Homo sapiens: one gene and its partners. Changing the gene in region 5 together with the main gene of any one other region gives a genetic interaction. Each region holds a gene or a part of one and is shown on either strand. Other genes may lie near its edges. The genes, in order: SEC22B, EXOSC6, ACTL6A, EIF4G1 and MRPL22.

Region 1 (3,655 bases), on a different chromosome or scaffold from region 5:
ATTTATACATTTTTTCTGATGTTTACTTGCTGAAGTTTTAGCTTCTGCATCCTTTTCCATTCCACTTCTTTTTGTCTTTTTGAGTGACTAAGGCTTTGTTCTGAAAAGTAATTTTCTCTAGTCTTTTGATCTTTCCCCCATAGAAATTGTTGCCTTTTGCCCTTTCTGTTATTTGGTTTGATTCTTCTTTAGAGTCACATGTGACAGGAACTGTGCCTAAAGATCTACTTGATTGGCATATAATGGCTGAGTTCTTCTTTACCCCAGTCCACAGACTCACACTCACAATAAGGCTCATTTTATGGAGATCAGAATTGGGAAATCAGAAAGAATGATGTTTTGTTTCTTTTAGTAGAATAAGATCCTCTAATTAAAAAAACAAAACATAACAAAGAAATAGAAGATACCTGGTACTCATGGTATTGGGGTATAATATTTACTACATTCAGGAATAGTGAGCATAGGTGTCTGTATTTGTGCAAGAATTATAGAAAGACTAATTACTAATCAGACCTGGTAAAGTATCTGATGGTAAGGGATCAAAGGAAATGTCCTAAGTACAGTAAGTACAGGGAGTGAGAACAAGTAGGATCAGGCTATATCGCTGAAATTTTTAGTTAAAAGAGAAATTGGTTTTACTGGCTTAGAATTTTTGAAGTGTTTCAAGTTTGCTAGATAAATGGGTCATCTTGCTTTGGAAAAACACTCTAGTGTTTCATAACTATATACTCTCCAAGTGCTGCTTTATATAATGTCCAGTTTTTCAAATTTTATTTTTATAGACAGTAATACTCCCATAAACCTCCCTCAAAAATAAGACAAATGTATCAGGGTCATACAGGAAACAGATGGCACACCCAAATTAGCTTAAGGGATTATATACAAAGATATGACTAGGCTGTAGGAGAATTACAAGGTACAGTAACCTCTGACCAGTAGCATACTGGTTGTTACCATCCCTAGGCCTGAATGTATAAGGGGGAGGAGCAGTTTCTGAAACTGAAAAGGAGAAAATTTCTAGAGAAGGCCAACTTGAGAGGAGCGTAACTTTTGGTAGAGGGATACTTCCAGAAGAAGGTTATTTCCTTCTCTGAAAGAAGCCAGGGGAATAAATACCCGGACATCACTCACTGTCTGTTCTCCTTCTTCCCTACTGTTGGGGCTTCTTCATTGCCTGAACCTAACTGGCACAGAGCAAGGAGTCTTGAGGCGCTTCATCCAAGTCAGCTTCCCAGTGCAGAAAGCAAGGTGCAGGAGGGCAGAGAGGAGATCTAAAGAGGCAAATGAAAGGGGTACAGCACACTTAAATTAAGATTTTTGCCAAAAGTTGAAAATATCTTTAATAATAAGTCATTCTTCCTATAGTTTTGAGAAATACTGATATGAGCAAAAGATGGATGAGACTTCAGTTTTTATTTATTTATTTATTTACTTAGAGACAGAGTCTCGCTCTATTGCCCAGGCTGGGGTGCAGTGGCATGATTTTGGCTAACTGCAACCTCTGCCTCCTAGGTTCAAGTGATTCTTGTGCCTCAGCCTCCTGAATAGCTGGGACTAGAGGTGCACGCTGCCATGACCAGCTAGCTAATTTCGGTATTTTTGGTAGAGATGGGAGTTTTGCCTTGTTGGCCAGGCTGGTCTCGAATTCCTGGCCTCAAGTGATCCACCCATCTTGGCCTCCCAAAATGCTGGGATTTATACGTGTGAGACACAGTGCCTGGCCGAGACTTCAGTTCAGTTTTGTATTGGTATTTTGGAAAACTCCCTATTACATATTTGCTTTACCTGAGGTTTAAGAATGGAATGAAACTGGGAATGTATATTAGAGAAAAGGTAAAGTTTCTCAGCTTTTTAATGATCATGAACCCTTTTGCCATGTTAGGCTGTAATAATGCTAGAGTGTTACCAGCATCCTTTTAAGGAATGTGTAGAGGTAAGTAACACTTAGCCTAAGGGTCCTCAGAATACTGTTTGAAAATTTCTGTTTTCAGGAAAGGCTTACTATAGTGGGTCTTAATTTCTCTAAGGATTCTGATAGCAGCCTTAGATAGCAAATACTTCTAATTCAAAGGTATTCAAAGGACATTTCTCCTGAATGGTCGTCTAATTATACCTTTACATCTTACAAATGAAATAATCAAAGCCTAGATTTTGATATTCAACCAAGAGTTTGGTTAACCATGGACAGTGGCAAATCCAGGAATAAACTCAGAACTGTTTTGGTTTTTTTTTTTTTGTTTTTGAGACAGAGTCTTGCTCTGTCACCCAGGCTAAAGTGTGGTGGTGGTGTGATCTCGGCTCACTGCAACCTCTGCCTCCCAAGTTCAAGTGATTCTCCTGGCTCAGCCTCCTGAGTAGCTGGGATTATAGGCGTGTGCCGCCACGCCTGGCTAACTTTTTATATTTTTAGTAGAGACGGGGTTTCACTGTGTTAGCCAGGATGGTCTCGATTTCCTGACCTCATGATTCACCTGCCTTGGCCTCCCAAAGTGCTGGGATTACAGGTGTGAGCCACCGCGCCTGGCCAACTCAGAACTTTTAATCTCCTACCTCAGTACTTTGATGGCCATGAAAGAAATGGTCAGTTTTCTTCATCATTCTAGATACTTTCATTCAGAAAACCAAGAAGCTCTACATTGACAGTCGTGCTCGAAGAAATCTAGGCTCCATCAACACTGAATTGCAAGATGTGCAGAGGATCATGGTGGCCAATATTGAAGAAGTGTTACAACGAGGAGAAGCACTCTCAGGTATCTAAAAGCAATGAGTCTTATGAAGAAATGGTTCTCATTCCATAGACAAGGATAGCTTATTTTGCAGTGCCTTTTATGCTATTAGATTCTACCTAGAACTGTTAAGAATTTATCTCCCAGAAGTACATTACATTACAATGCTTCCAATATATTTTTTTTCCTAGCATGATTAGTTTTTGTTGAGTTGGAACAGTGTAAAGGACTCATCCATATTAGAAGCAATGATTATTTCTAAGATATTCACAAAATTAATTAAATTATATAACTTGTATAAATTAAGGGAAATGAATGAGAGAAAACTCAATGATGTATTGCAGTGGTTTTTTGAGTAGCCTCTTTGGGAGACTTTACTGCTGCCAGATCAATCTTTATAAAATGCCATTTTCATCAAGGCATTCCTCTGAAAAACTTTTAAATCTGGGACTACAAGATAAGATCCAGTCTGACTTATTTTTCCGTCAGTCAGCCATTGTTATTGAGAGCTTGTTATTTGTAAGGCATTGTGCTCTACATATGGAAAATAAGGAAGATGCAAATGTCTGTCATTCTCTAGTTCACAAACATTCTTCTGTAGCCACACCAGCTTCTTTACTATCCTTAGTGGTCTATTCTGCCTTATGCTGGACCTGTTCTGTAAGACCTCCATAAGAACTGTCTCTTTAAAGAACCTTTCTCTGATCCTTATAGCCTGTATCACATTAATCTCTTCTGTACTTTAAACTCCTAAAGCACTTAATAACATAATGGTTTTAGCACATATTACATGTATGTGTGTTTACCTAATTTACCTTAAATATATTTATTAAATACCTCTTACCATATTAAATATATATTTAATATATATTAAATATATTTCCATATAACATAAGTATATATTTCATATATTTATATTAAAGTAGGCA
Region 2 (2,959 bases), on a different chromosome or scaffold from region 5:
CCCTATTTCCTTTTTTAAAAAAATAACCAGAAAAACAATAAAATGTTACAAATAACTTGGATCTTCCATTGTCCACTTCAGGGTATTGCCACTGCAATATATTCTTACCATATACTTTTTCCTACCAGTACAAACTACAAATAACTTGGGTAAGTCCTGTCTGTACTTATTCTACCCACCTACTAGTAATTTCTTCTGAAAATATATATTTAGCTAACAAGTAATGTTCATTTACAATATAACATTTCTCTGAATTAGTTTTCTTGCATTATTAAAGAAATGTTATTGATAGATGGTCACTGGGGGACCACTGCTCCTCCCCGACAGTATTTAAATAACTGGTATAGGCTGCAAGACTTACCAGATACCTGCTGCGTGAGCGAAGGTTTCTGAGTATGATCTATATGCCATCCAACTAATATATCAACTGTATCCTTGATGGAAACAAAGAGAGAGGGGGCCAATCATTTTAAGATATTACTGCCATTCACCTGTGGACCATTCCACAGCAAAAGATCCTAAAAGGAGCATCTATGTTCTACCTACTCAACATTCTAGAAACTTAGAAAGGGGAGAGGGGCAGGAAAATAAAAGAACTACATTTCTGACAACAATGAAATAGTTTATTTTCTTCAAATATTTTAAGGTACGAACGTCAGAAATAAAAATGCAGCATTTAACCCTGGAACCTCAAATATCACTGATTATACTCAAAGGAGCAGAGGCATTGTTTTCCATCTGATTCCTCAGTTCCTCACACACACAACCATCCCCCTCACCCCATGATCTGAAAAGCGAAATGAGGAATTCACCCTAAAATTAGTGTGGAGAAAACAAGCAAATTAGGTTATTTACTAAGTGACTACATAAAAAACTGAGTATGAGACCAAGAAAAATAGATTCTGTAGTTTTAGTTAAAAAAAAAATTGACTTGTAAATCCCAACTACTCGGGAGGCTGAGACACAAGAATCGCTTGAACCCAGGAGGCAGAGGTTGCAGTGAGCTGAGATTGCACCGCTGCACTCCAGCCTGGACAATACAGCCAGACTCCATCTCAAAAAAAAAAATAATTAATAAATAAATAAAATAAATATACTGAAAATATTTCACTCCACTAAGATGTTAAGCTAAAAACAAATACTGTTTTCTCTTCTTCAATGTTTGTTAACATTAGTCCTTAATAACATCTGTTTACAATATCCCTAAATGCTCTCTTTAAGATTCCACCTGTGATTAAATTTCAAATACAAAAAAGTAAAACGGATTTGGGAAACTTTTCTATAAAGTACAGCAATTAATTTGCAATCCAAAATATAAAGCAAATTTTATATAATTTATGCTTTACTATATTAGTACTTGCTTCACATTAAAATTAAAGATCAGTATGGCACCACACATGAATAACATGCAGGCTCAGGTTACCATTATACATAAATTTTTAAAATAAATATATGGCAAAAATAATAATTGTCATTCCATTGAAAGAATATTTATTTTGCAGCTGTTAAAAGACATTTTTCCCTAAAAAAAGAAAAGCTGTGCTTTACATAGCAATCTTATAAAAGAAATGCTAGAATCAGAAAACCATCATTTTAGGCTGGGTGCAGTGGCTCACACCTGTAACCCCAGCACTTTGGGAGGACGAGGCAGGTGGATCACTTGAGGTCAGGAGTTCAAGACCAGTCTGGCCAGCTCGATGAAACTCCGTCTCTACTAAAAATATAAAAATTAGCAGAGCACAGTGGCACCTGCCTGTAATCCCAGCTACTCAGGAGGGTGAAGCATGAGAACTGCTTGAACCTGGGAGGCGGAGGTTGCAGTGAGCCGAGATTGTGCCACTGCCCTCCAGCTTGGACAATAGAGCAAGATTTCGTCTCAAAAAAAAAGAGAAAAAGAAAACCATTATTTTGCAATAGCCAATGTTATAATCTACACAGGCACAGACTATCAATGCTAAAAATCATTTAAAAGACATCTTAGGGGTAATTACAGAAATTTGAATATAGAACACATATGTAATAAAATTCATTTTCTTAGGTATGATTACAATATTCTTGTTATACAGAAGAAAAACCTTATTCTTGGGAGATGCAAACTAAAACATTATGGGTTGAACTGTCATCATGTGTATGGTTTTCAGATGCTCAACAAAAGTGTGTGAGAAAATAAAACTGGCAAAATATTAGTAACTGGTAAATCTAGGTGAAGCATATTATTATGAAATTATTATCGTATTTACAGGTATTTATTTTACTGGTGCATCTATCTTTCTATGAATGTGAGAATTTTCACAAGAGCTGGGAAAATGTTCATAATTATGCATGCAGAATAAGCCCAAGCTGGTGGCATTCTGTTCAGTTACAGGTAATTTTCTGAATCTTCCCTCAAATTTTTCTCAAACCTCTATAATCAAGGGGAAAAATGTTTTGTTTTGCTTTGCTTTTTTGAGATAGGGTTGCCTATAATGGAGTGCAGTAGCTTGACCATAGCTCACTGTAGCTTCAACCTCCCAGGCACAAGCGATCCTCCTGCCTCAGCCTTCAAGTAGCTGGGACTACAGGTGCATACCACCATGCCTGACTTATTTTTTTTCCTTTTTTTTTTTTTTTTTTTTTTTTGATAGAAACAGGGTTTCACCTTGTTGCCCAGGCTGGTCTCAAACTCCTGGACTCAGGCGATTCACCAGCCTCAGCCTCCCACAGTGCTGGGGTTACAGGAGTGAGCCACCATGCCCAGTTAAAAATACACTTTTTATTTAAAAAAAAAAGAGAACACTCCTTATATTTCCTTTATATTTTGTAAACTACATACCCAAAATAAAGCATATCAAAAACTGTAAAAAAAAAAAAAAAAAACCCTAATATCAGATATTCCAGACACAACAATACCATAATTTAATCACTTAAAATCTTACTCAAAACTAAATCAATGATCTTTTAGGCCAGGTGTGGTGGCTCA
Region 3 (3,655 bases), on a different chromosome or scaffold from region 5:
TCCCTTTAATAAGTAAACTGAAATTACCCAGTTTTAGTGTACCATTTCTTAACTGATTGAACCTCTACTTAAATACGGTGTATGCCTTGTTATATTTTAATTAAATGATTCTTTAAGGTGTATTTGAAACTAGGTTCAAGTGAGTAATAATATGAATATAATTGGGCTGAGTGCAGTGGCTCATGCCTGCAGCACTTTGGGATGCTGAGGCAGAGGATTGCTTGAGCCCTGGAGTTTGAGTCCAGCCTGGGCAACATAGTGAGACCTTATGTCTACAAAAAATTTAAGAAATTCATTGTAGTCCCAGCTATTTGGAAGACTGAGGCGGGAGGATTGCTTGAGCCTAGGAGGTTGAGGCTGCAGTGAGCTGTGATTTTCATATGATACTTTTGCAAGCTGTTAATGCTAATTATCTTTAATCTTTTCAGATGAAGTTGGAGCCCTTGTTTTTGACATTGGATCCTATACTGTGAGAGCTGGTTATGCTGGTGAGGACTGCCCCAAGGTAAGTGTAATGTTAGAGTTAATTGGATATGTAAAGCCATTCATGTAAATTAAATTTATGCAGAAATTCTGATTCAAAACAAAATATAATAAAATACATTAATTGGGGAAAAAATGCCTTCTTGATGAAAGGTGAAACTTGTATGTCATGTTTCTGACTCTTACAGGTGGATTTTCCTACAGCTATTGGTATGGTGGTAGAAAGAGATGACGGAAGCACATTAATGGAAATAGATGGCGATAAAGGCAAACAAGGCGGTCCCACCTACTACATAGATACTAATGCTCTGCGTGTTCCGAGGGAGAATATGGAGGCCATTTCACCTCTAAAAAATGGGATGGGTATGATGTTTTCCCCATGGAATTGATTATGGAGTGTACATGTTATATTTTAGATACAAAGTAGTAGCTTCCTATAAGTTGAACATCAACCATGGTTTTTTGTTTTGTTTTGTTTTTTATTCCACAAACTGATTTCCAGACACTGAGAATACAAAGATGCATAAGAAATGTTCCTTTTCATTAAAAGCTTACAGTTAGTTGGGGGAAATAGATGTATATATACAAATAATGGTACACTGTGGGATAAGTGGTACAATATAGGTATGTGCAATGAGCAATGGGATTAGAGAGGAGAGGTATTTGACTCTAGTGTTGGGAGTCAGTGATGGTTTTCACAAAGGAGGTAACATGATGAATCTTGATCAATGAGTAAGAATTAGCTTGGCTGACAAAGCTGGGTAAAGCAAAGGGACCAGCATGTGTGAAGGGATGGAATTGTGAAAGAAACTTATGTGCTTGAAAATGTAATACAATTAAGTATGGTTGCAGCATTGGGCTTATTAGGGTCAGTAGCAGGAAAGGTAGGCAGAGAGCAGTAGCAGGAAAGGTAGGCAGGGAGCAGTCATAAAAGGGCTTGTAAACCATCCCAGGGTTGTATTAAGCTAGTGACTGAAGGATAACCCCAAAGGAATTTAAACAGATGTGATGGTCAGAGTCCAGATGAGAAATGAAAAAGGTTTAAACTATTATATAATGCTGGTAGAGATTCTGAAGGGACTTTCAGGGTAACCAGGAGACAAATGGTACTAAATGATCGAGGGAGTGAAAGCAAGAGAGAAGTTGAGAAAGTTTCCTAGATTTTTGGTTGGGGTAACTCTGAACAGAGAGTACCATGCATTGAGATAGGAATATAAAGGGAAGGAGCAAGTGTTACGGTTTTAAAAGGCATGGTTGGCCATGCGTGGTGGCTCGCGCCTATATAATCCCAGCACTTTGGGAGGCTGAGACTGTGGGTGGATTGCTTGAGTCTAGGAGTTTGAGACCAGCCTGGGCAACATGGCGAAACCCCATCTCTACTAAAAATACAAAAATTTGACAGGTGTGGTGATGCGTACCACCTGTAATTCCAGCTACTTGGGAGGCTGAGGCATGAGAATCACTTGAACCCAGGATGCAGAGGTTGCAGCTGAGATCTCATGACTACACACCAACCTGGGTGACAGAGTGAGACTCTGTCTCAAAAAAAAAAACAAAAAAAAAAAACAAGCTTATCAGGGATAGCCAAAATCACTCTCAGGTTCAATTATTCACCAGCAAGACTCACTCACAGGACTCAGCATATGGTTGTATTCACAGCTAAGATTTATTGTACTGAAGATTCAGATACAAAACAAAATCGACAAAGGGAAAAGGGACAGGGGATGATGAAGTCCAGATACAGGCTTTGGAGAGTCTTCTCACAGTGGAGTCACACAGGATGTGCTTAATCCCTCCAGCAACAAGTTATGATCTGTGTTACCTTCCAGGAGAACTCTGAGGCTCAGTACCCAAGGATTTTACAGAGGGCTGGTTATGTAGGTACCATCTACCTGGCATGTAACAAAATTTTAGATTCTCAGAAGGAAAGCAAGTGTTCAGAACAAACCACATTGTATAAACAGTGTAGGTATAGCGAGCTACCCTTACCATTTAGGGACAAGTTTTATATGAACATAGGGAACTGTTTGCCAGTCATGTTTCCAGACACCAGCTAAGAGTCAGCCTTACAAGCAGGCCTTTCTCAGGCTTGCAGTGTTAACTCTTTCATGTGTAGTAAGTAAATGGGTTCACTGAGTTCAAAGTACTTAGAACATCCAGGTGATAATTCAGTAAACGGGAATAAAAGGTTATAAGAAAGATTTTAAGACATGGAGTTGCATTTTATTACTCTGAAAAAAATTGGAACATGAGAAGAGGATTGAAGATGGAGTTCTAGCAAAAACTTGTTGTATATTTTAACCAATAGAGAATAAAAGGTACCCTTGAAGGAGAAAGAAAGGGAACAATTAGGGATGTAGGAAAAAAAGCAGGGGAAGAACAAGAAAAGAAAAAGTTTCTGGAAGCATAAAATTCCAGTTATTCTCGGTGTTTTCTGCTGTGACATTGAAAGCTTTACACTAAGAAAGAAGTTAAAAAAATCCAGGTGGGCCTGTGGAAATATATAATTAATGACATTTTTTCTTTGGGCTGTGACAGAAAAGTTTGTAAACTCTTGTGTAGGCAATACTGTCATAATTTAGAGAAGTCAGATGAGATTAAAAATGTTAAGTATCCATGAATTTGCCTAGTAGAAGGTCATTAGTGGCTGGGGGCGGTGGCTCACGCCTGTAATCCCAGCACTTTGGAGGCTGAGGTGGGTGGATCACCTGAGGTCAGGAGTTCGAGACCAGCCTGGCCAACATGGTGAAACCCTGTCTCTACTAAAAATGCAAAAATTAGTTGGGTACGGTGGCGGGCACCTGTAATCCCAGCTACTCGGGAGCCTGAGGGAGGAGAATTGCTTGACCCCAGGAGGCGGAGGTTGCAGTGAGCTGAGATTGTGCCATTGCACTCCAGTGTGGGGGACAGAACGAGACTCCATCTCAAAAAAAAGAAAAAAGAAGGTCATTAGTGACTTATGTCAGTAGTTTTAATGGAATGTTTAGGTGGAAGCCAAATTGAAGACAGATGCTCTTCTTTGAATTTTTAACATGTCTTTTAGTCTTTTTCCAAATAGATTGTAAGTTTTTTTGAGTGTCGGGTCTAGACCATACAATTCTTTCTTTTTTTTTTTTTTTTATAAATCCAGCAGTAGTATCATCAGAAGGCCATACAATTCTTCTGTACTTCC
Region 4 (3,655 bases), on a different chromosome or scaffold from region 5:
TATTAAAAATACAAAAAAATTAGCCAGGTATGGTGGCACATGCCTGTAATCCCAGCTACTTGGGAGGCTGAGGCAGGAGAATCGCTTGAACTCAGGAGGTGGAGGCTAGCCAAGATCACACCACTGCACTCCAGCCTGGGTGACAGAGCAAGACTGTCTCAAAAAGGAAAAAAAACGTCCTGAGCCAGAGAAATCCCCAAGACACCACTACCTCCATTCCAAATTCTACAGCTGAGTAGCATCTGGGTAAGGGAAGGAGGTAAGTGGTGAGTGGAATCGATAGTGGGTTTTCTCTCACCGTAGCAGCTTCATCCATCTCTTTTTGCTTCTTCTCAAAAACCTCATCATCATCTTTGTCTTTCTCAAACTCCTTCTGACATCGATTCAACAACAGCTTTCGGAAGTTCACAGTCACTGTTGGCTTTTCCGTAGTGGGCACTTTCAGCTGTAGGTCAGAGAGAATGTCACACTCAAGACTAGTCCTGGGCAGGGAAGGCCCTCCAAGAGCCTTTAACTACCTGACCCAGGAAGATCTCTGGCCCCAGCTCTGCCTCCTTCCAGCTGGAAGAGGCACAAGTTGGAGGGGAACCAAGAAGCTGGACTCAAGGAGTCTTGGGAATAGGAATGGGCAACCAGACCATTAGATTTAGAACCCACTGGAAACTAACCGCCATGAGGCAGCGGCACATGTTGGCATAGGCCACAGAGAAGTTGGGCTCTGAAATGGCCTTCTCAAAAATGAGGTCAATGACCCCTTTGAGGCGTTCCTCGGTGTCGATGGCCAGCTGCGTCACTTGCTTCATCAGCTGCTGGAACATCTGGGGTGTCAGTTTATTCAGGATGGAGCGCACCCTGCGGAATAGGTCCTGGAGGGAGAAGAGACAAGAGTTCCAGTGAGGGTCTCAGAACAGGCTGTTGGGAGGGACAGGAGAGGGTGGTGGGGACTTAGGCATGACAGATGCTAGTGATAAGGACAAAAAGAAGCAAAGAGGGCACAGATGGCAGACCTGGAGAAGAAATGGAGAGAGACCAAAAGCAGGACTTGCCAGTACCTGGGTTTTGCTGCCATCAGCATCTTCTTCCCCTCGATCCTTATCAGCCGCCGTCCGCTTGCTGCTGGGTTTCCAGGCTTTCTCTGCTTTGTTCAGTTTTATATCTTCGGTCATTAACACTGTGGCAATGATCTTGCGTGGTTCTTTTCGGGGTCCCTGCTGAGAGCGCCGGGGTCCCAGGCCAGCCTGCTAAGCAAGGGATGAAGACAAGAGGGGACATGGAACTAGTCAGCACAATATGTGACACCACTACTACACGCCTCCAGGGCAAACCCCTCCCCGCGGGCACTGAGACACGGAATCATCCACTCCCACTCCTTGCCCACCTGCCACTTTACCCAGCCCCACTCACCGGCCCACGGGGCAGCTCCCCACCTGGCCCACCCCTTGGGGGCCCACGGGTGCTAAGGGTTGTCCGGCCAAGGTTGGCAAAGGATGGAGTGAAGTCTGGGCCACAATTTATGCCTTGTAGTCTAGTGGGATCCAGTGGCCGCAGTGGTGTTTTATTGGCCTGCAAAGAGGACAGGAAAAGGTCTCAGAAGCAGGCTAGAGCGGTTGACTACTCTTTCAGGACCTCAGGCTCCTCCCCAATCCATCCAGCACAAACTTATCGTCCCCTCCCCAACTGAAGCCACTAACCTTGTCCAGCACCACGTCACTGATATGTGGCAATCCCTCTGGCTTCTGCATACTGGCAAAGATGAACTGAAAACCAAGCAGGAACTCACGGTCGTAACGTTTTTTCTCCTCTAGGTTTAGAGGCTTCCACTGATCTGCAAGGAAAACAGAATGAAGCAATCATACTGCCTCCTCTGGCCCTAATAAGAAAACTCAAGCCATTCTCAACCCTTTCTTCAGCATACCTGACTTATATTCATACTTCTGTTCCCCGGGCTGGATGTTCTCAGCATTGTGAATTTTGTCTTCCTTTGAGTCCCAGGTCTCATCTGCTTCCTCAGGACGTGGGGGCACACCACTGCCCTCAGACTCTGGGCCTGGATTGCTGCCTGCAGGAGGCTGATTTTCCACCTCTGGTACTGCCGGGTTCGCCTAGAACAACAGAACATCCAGTTTTGGTTGCAGAATGACCACTGCTCCATACCTCAACTTGGCCCTCTCCCCTCCCATTTTCTGCTCCCTTACCTCCTTGAAGGCATCCAGAAGGTCTCCAACAGCCTCCTTCTTATTTAGCTCCTTAATTTTCCGTCTCCTCTTTGGCACAGATACTGCCACTAATTAAAAATAAATAAATAAAAGCATGGATCTTTGCCAATAATTTAAGGAGTACCCTTAATCCCTGGGAAATAGAAAGCAGCCAAAGAACAGTATTTCCCCTTTGCATCACCCTTTTTAGGCTTAAAAGTCCTTAATCTAGTTCTTAGATTCCATTGCAGGGACCCAGAAACATGTCAAAAATGGGCGGTCATCAAGGAGGGCAAGGAACGATATCCCCTAGCCCGCCCTACCTCTACCGTCCAACCACACCTTACCTTGAGTGGCTGCTGCTGCCTCCAAATTCTGAGACAAGTTGGCTGGAATAGGGGTACTCTCTGGGGGGAGCAGTTCCTCTCCTCCTTTCTCACTCTCAGCTTCTCCTGCTTCTCCTGCTTCTCCTTCTTCCTCTTCTTCTTCTTCTTCCATTTCCTCCTCCTGAGCTGGGGAAGTAGCTGAAGGAGCCGTAGCTGGAGTAGCAGAGGGGATGGTGGGGGGCGCCATTGATGCTGTCACCTCCTTGGCCTGCTCCTCTGGCTCACTGACTGGGCTTAAGTCCACAGCTGGTGGCGAGGGGGCTCCGTTGAGCAGTTCCTCAGGTTGGGCAGTTGGAGCAATGGGCACAGGGGATTCGGAGGGGCAAGCTGGGGGAGGAGCAAGCTCTGGGCTTGACTCCACCTCTGGTTCCAGATCTTCAGATGGGACCATGCCATTAGGCTCATGAATTTCCACTGTGTGAGATGCCAAAGGGGTGGGAGCCTGGAGAGGACTGGAAGAAAACTCAGATTCTGGAACCGGTTTGCTAAGTGTCACTTCTACTTCCAGTATGGGTTCGGCGAGAGGAGTGGGTTCTGGAGAGAGGCGATATGGCTCCCCAGTTTCACGGGAGATGGGGGTTGATTCTTCTACAGACATTTGTATAGTTGTCATAGTGTCCCCAGGAATAGAGAGGACTGCGAGATTAGGCTCAGACCCCGGTTCCAAGACTGGGGATGGTGATGGGGTCGGAGAAGGCGACGAAGGCTGGGATTCTGAAGGGCTATGCTCTGGGCCAGGCAGCCCTGGCCGGTCAGCAATGATTGCTCCCTGTGACCGGTCATCTGCACCATAGGAAGGAAGAATGAGCAACTAAAGGCAAGTGCTTAACTGCTGTTGTTCCTCCCCATCCTCCAGCCCAGGCATTCCCAACTTAATAACCCCGCATCATCTTCTCCCCACCTAAGCTATACTTCCACTTTCATCCAAAACCCAATTCACCCTCAAAATCCCACAACCTGAAATCTAAGTCATCATTCTCTGGTACCCAGTTCAAGTCACTCCACCACCTCAGCATTTAACTGTTAACATTCCCTTTCCCCATAAAAGCTCCGTCCCACCGGCTTACTTACCTG
Region 5 (3,655 bases):
AGCACTTTGGGAGGCTGAGGTGGGCGGATCGCCTGAGGTCAGGAGTTCAAGACCAGCCTGGCCAATATGGTGAAATCCCATCTCTACTAAAAATACAAAAATATTAGCCGCGTATGGTGGCGCGCAGCTGTAGTCCCAGCTACTCGGGAGGCTGAGGCAGAAGAATCGCTTGAACGCAGGAGGCGGAGACTGCAGTGAGCCAAGATGGCGCCACTGCACCCCAGCCTGTGCAACAGAGCTAGACTCCGTCTCAAAAAAAAAAAAAAAAAAAAGAAAAATATATGTAATAAAAAAAGAATATTCATGTTCCTAGAAAGAGTCACCACAATTACCATCAGCACATTTGTATCTAGTGAATTAGCTACATTTAGAGTTGGAAGGATCTTTAGGGGTCATCTAATCCAATTCCACATAGTTTAGGTGAGAAAAATAGAAACTGACTGGTTAAGTGTCTTGCCCACGGTCACAAGAAAAAGATCAGAGAAAGGACTAGAGTCCAAGTCTCTTGAGTTCCAGTCCAGGGCTCTTTCCATTTAGTTACAAAATTACTTAGTTATAAAAACTCTCCTTTATAGGAAAAAAAAAATCTTCAAAAAAATATACCTTGAAGTTCAGCCTTGCTCCAAGAAATAAATTATATACACAAACACACATACATACACACAAATACACACATATACGTACCAAGCCCCAAATCATTAAAAATAAGATTCATCACATCATAAGCAGTAAAAAACAGATAAATATTTGGTGGAAATAAAAGCACCTCAGGAAATAAACCCTAAAGCACACAACATTCCTAAAGTATACACATATTTAATAAACTGAGAACCCTAAATCTGTATTATATAAAGTATGCATTTACAACAGAAAATTTAGGGAATTCATGATTTAGGCTAAGCTTACTAATAATTGCAAGACAGCTGCATTCCCCAGTTCCCCATTCCCTACCACACCCAAACTTGTAAGTTTACCTCTTTAATTATTTTGGCCCCTTTTTTGTCATTGAATTCCAACTGAGCCAAAGCCTGGTCAATAGACATTCCTCGTATCTAGAATTAAAGGGTGAGAGACAAAAGAAAATAAATTAGTTTACAAAGTCAATGTTTCCTTTTCAATGAAAGTCTTACATAATTTGAGTAACTTCTAAAAACAGTGAATTGAACCCAAATAAAAGAGAAGAAAACAAGTTTGAGAGGAGACACTATTCTCTTTCAGTCAAAATGAAACAAACATTTTAACCATAAAACTGAGATTATAATAGTTTCAATAACATTAAAAGACAGCAAACATGACAGAGAGACCACAGGTTGGTAACAACCACACTAGGCATTCAAGGCATCTCCTTCTCCTATAGGATAAATGTATTACATGTATATTTGCTGCTTCAGTCTCCCCTCATCTATAAATTTCATTTCCTAGGGAAAAAAACTTAAAAGCAACAGTTTTAAAACAGGTTGAATCAAGTTTACAGATAAATAGGTGGGTTTCCTGGATTCTCTGGTTATAGCCAAACTCCTGATGCCTTTTAGTATCTATCTATCCAATGTGATTTAGTTTCTCAGAAAAAGGTGAAAATTAAGGAAAATCATACATCTCTGAACAATCATTCTTTTGACAACCTACCAATTATATCACATTCCTCACAAATCTTTTTTATTTTTCAAATCCTGGGGTGAGGGGTGGGGAGGGGAACTCATAGCTTCTTTCCTAAATTATTAATTATATGGTAATAGTCATTGCAGCTTACCAATTTTGCCAAATACCACATCTTGTCTTTGCTATATTTTATTTGTCTTCGACAGTGGTAGATTTCCTTACAAATTGGAAAAAAAAGGACAGAAAGAAAATGTTAGCAGGTTTACCACAAAATGACAATAACATATACTGTTATTTAAGTTTTTACTTTCTAGGCCTAAAGAAAATGCTGCCATAAGAAATAGAAACATTACTAAGAATTTAGAGATTATTTTCCCCTACACAAAGTTGTATTTTTCCAAAGTCTCACTATGTTAAAAGATTACTACGGGAGAAATAGAAACTATACAATGGCTGGTTTGTGTCAACACTTGCAACATTTCTATCCAAAGAAATCCTAAAAGATTTAAATGAAAGTATCTTTAAAACATTTAGCTGATTAAAAGAACAAAAGAAAAAGTACAAGAAAACGTTCATTATTAATGAGGAGAAAAATGGCAAAATGGACAAGTGTTTTCATGTGAAAAGCCAATATTCTAGGTGTTTGGCCAACAGCATAGGTTCTAGAATCAGACTGCCTGCCTGGATTTGAATCCTAACTCTGCCATTTACTAGCTACATAATCTTGAGCAAGCTACTTAACCTCTCTCTAATTTTCCTCTTCTGTAAAATAAATAAAACGATAATTAGAGGGAAATAAAGTAACCTATTTCAAGAAACCATTTTATAGTGCTTGGCACATGGTAACTTCTCAGTAAATGTTAGCTTTTATTATCTTCTATTTAAAGTTGTAGGTATGTCCTGTTTAATTACAATGTATAGTTCAAAAAGCACTTTTCACTCATTATTTCATTTAGTCTAACTCTATGAGTTGAGGGATGAAACATTTTACATATAAACTGAAAATCAGAGAAATCAAGTGACTTGTCTAAGACCAGAGGTTTGCAAGAGACAAAGTTGGAATTCAAAGAACAGAGAAGTATGATACACCTGATACAATGTCTAGCACATCTACTTTCAAAAGTTCCTCTATTGACTCTAAAACCCACTTTCTTTCCACTACTATACCAAACTGCCATTTAAAAAAAAATTAGAAAACATGTGTTATGGAAAACTATAGCAAGGAGGTCTCAAAACTTTCTAACATTCTGACTCCTGCTGGAAATTTTCAAATGCCTTAGAAAGAGCAGTTTTCTCAAGTGGCCATCTTTTAATATGTGGCAGATTTCAGTTGCAATAGAAGCAGACAGCCTGAAACTATAGCAATAGCCTAATTACATTTTCAGCAATAAAGTTTCTTGGGGAGACAGGGAGAGGAAAGAACTATCATGACTGATAATAATAATCTGCAAAAATTAATCCACTCAATGAAATCTTTCATATAGAAGAGACCCTTGGCCGGGAGCAGTGGCTCAGCCTGTAATCCCAGCACTTTGGGAGGCCGAGGCGGCCGGATCACAAGGTCAGGAGATCGAGACCATCCTGTGAATGGTGAAACCCCGTCTCTACTAAAAATACAAAAAAAAAAAATTAGCCGGGCATGGTGGCCGGCGCCTGTGGTCCCAGCTACCCGGGAGGCTGAGGCGGGAGAATGCCATGAACCCGGGAGGTGGAGCTTGTAGTGAGCTGAGATTGCGCCACTGCACTCCAGCCTGGGCGACAGAGCGAGACTCCGTCTCAAAAAAATAAAAATAAAAAAGAAGAGACCCTTTAATTTGTGCATTCTTGTGGTGGGATAATTTTAAACCTTAATTTTGTATGATTACCCTCAAATTTTACACATATAAACAATGGTAATCCTGACCAGAGGATGGCAAAAAGGAAGAAGTGTTTACAAGAAAGGCAAAAGTTAATCATCCTCTTCCAAAACTGAAAAAAAACCTCAGCATTTACTTTGGGCAGGTGAAATGTCTAAGGGCACTTTCTAAAGATAAACGAGACAAAGTCTCAGTACGTA

What was found.
Region 1: changes in MRPL22 (region 5) and SEC22B together harm fitness more than expected from each alone (negative genetic interaction), as found in Homo sapiens cells (one large-scale study listed by BioGRID).
Region 2: changes in MRPL22 (region 5) and EXOSC6 together harm fitness more than expected from each alone (negative genetic interaction), as found in Homo sapiens cells (one large-scale study listed by BioGRID).
Region 3: changes in MRPL22 (region 5) and ACTL6A together harm fitness more than expected from each alone (negative genetic interaction), as found in Homo sapiens cells (one large-scale study listed by BioGRID).
Region 4: changes in MRPL22 (region 5) and EIF4G1 together harm fitness more than expected from each alone (negative genetic interaction), as found in Homo sapiens cells (one large-scale study listed by BioGRID).

What each region holds. Positions count from the first base shown.
Region 1 is NC_000001.11:120,159,479-120,163,133, reverse strand, and holds part of SEC22B (vesicle-trafficking protein SEC22b), read left to right. Parts: intron 1-2,603; coding exon 2,604-2,750; intron 2,751-3,655. UniProt on the Homo sapiens protein: SNARE involved in targeting and fusion of ER-derived transport vesicles with the Golgi complex as well as Golgi-derived retrograde transport vesicles with the ER.
Region 2 is NC_000016.10:70,246,177-70,249,135, forward strand, and holds the end of EXOSC6 (exosome complex component MTR3), read right to left. Parts: 3' UTR 602-2,959; downstream 1-601. UniProt on the Homo sapiens protein: Non-catalytic component of the RNA exosome complex which has 3'->5' exoribonuclease activity and participates in a multitude of cellular RNA processing and degradation events.
Region 3 is NC_000003.12:179,569,396-179,573,050, forward strand, and holds part of ACTL6A (actin-like protein 6A), read left to right. Parts: intron 1-428; coding exon 429-505; intron 506-671; coding exon 672-846; intron 847-2,127; exon of another isoform or gene 2,128-2,375; intron 2,376-3,655.
Region 4 is NC_000003.12:184,320,991-184,324,645, reverse strand, and holds part of EIF4G1 (eukaryotic translation initiation factor 4 gamma 1), read right to left. Parts: coding exon 3,653-3,655; intron 3,365-3,652; coding exon 2,543-3,364; intron 2,285-2,542; coding exon 2,196-2,284; intron 2,103-2,195; coding exon 1,916-2,102; intron 1,826-1,915; coding exon 1,692-1,825; intron 1,564-1,691; coding exon 1,405-1,563; intron 1,242-1,404; coding exon of another isoform or gene 1,239-1,241; coding exon 1,053-1,238; intron 867-1,052; coding exon 669-866; intron 446-668; coding exon 299-445; intron 1-298.
Region 5 is NC_000005.10:154,954,532-154,958,186, reverse strand, and holds part of MRPL22 (large ribosomal subunit protein uL22m), read right to left. Parts: intron 1,817-3,655; coding exon 1,751-1,816; intron 1,053-1,750; coding exon 975-1,052; intron 1-974.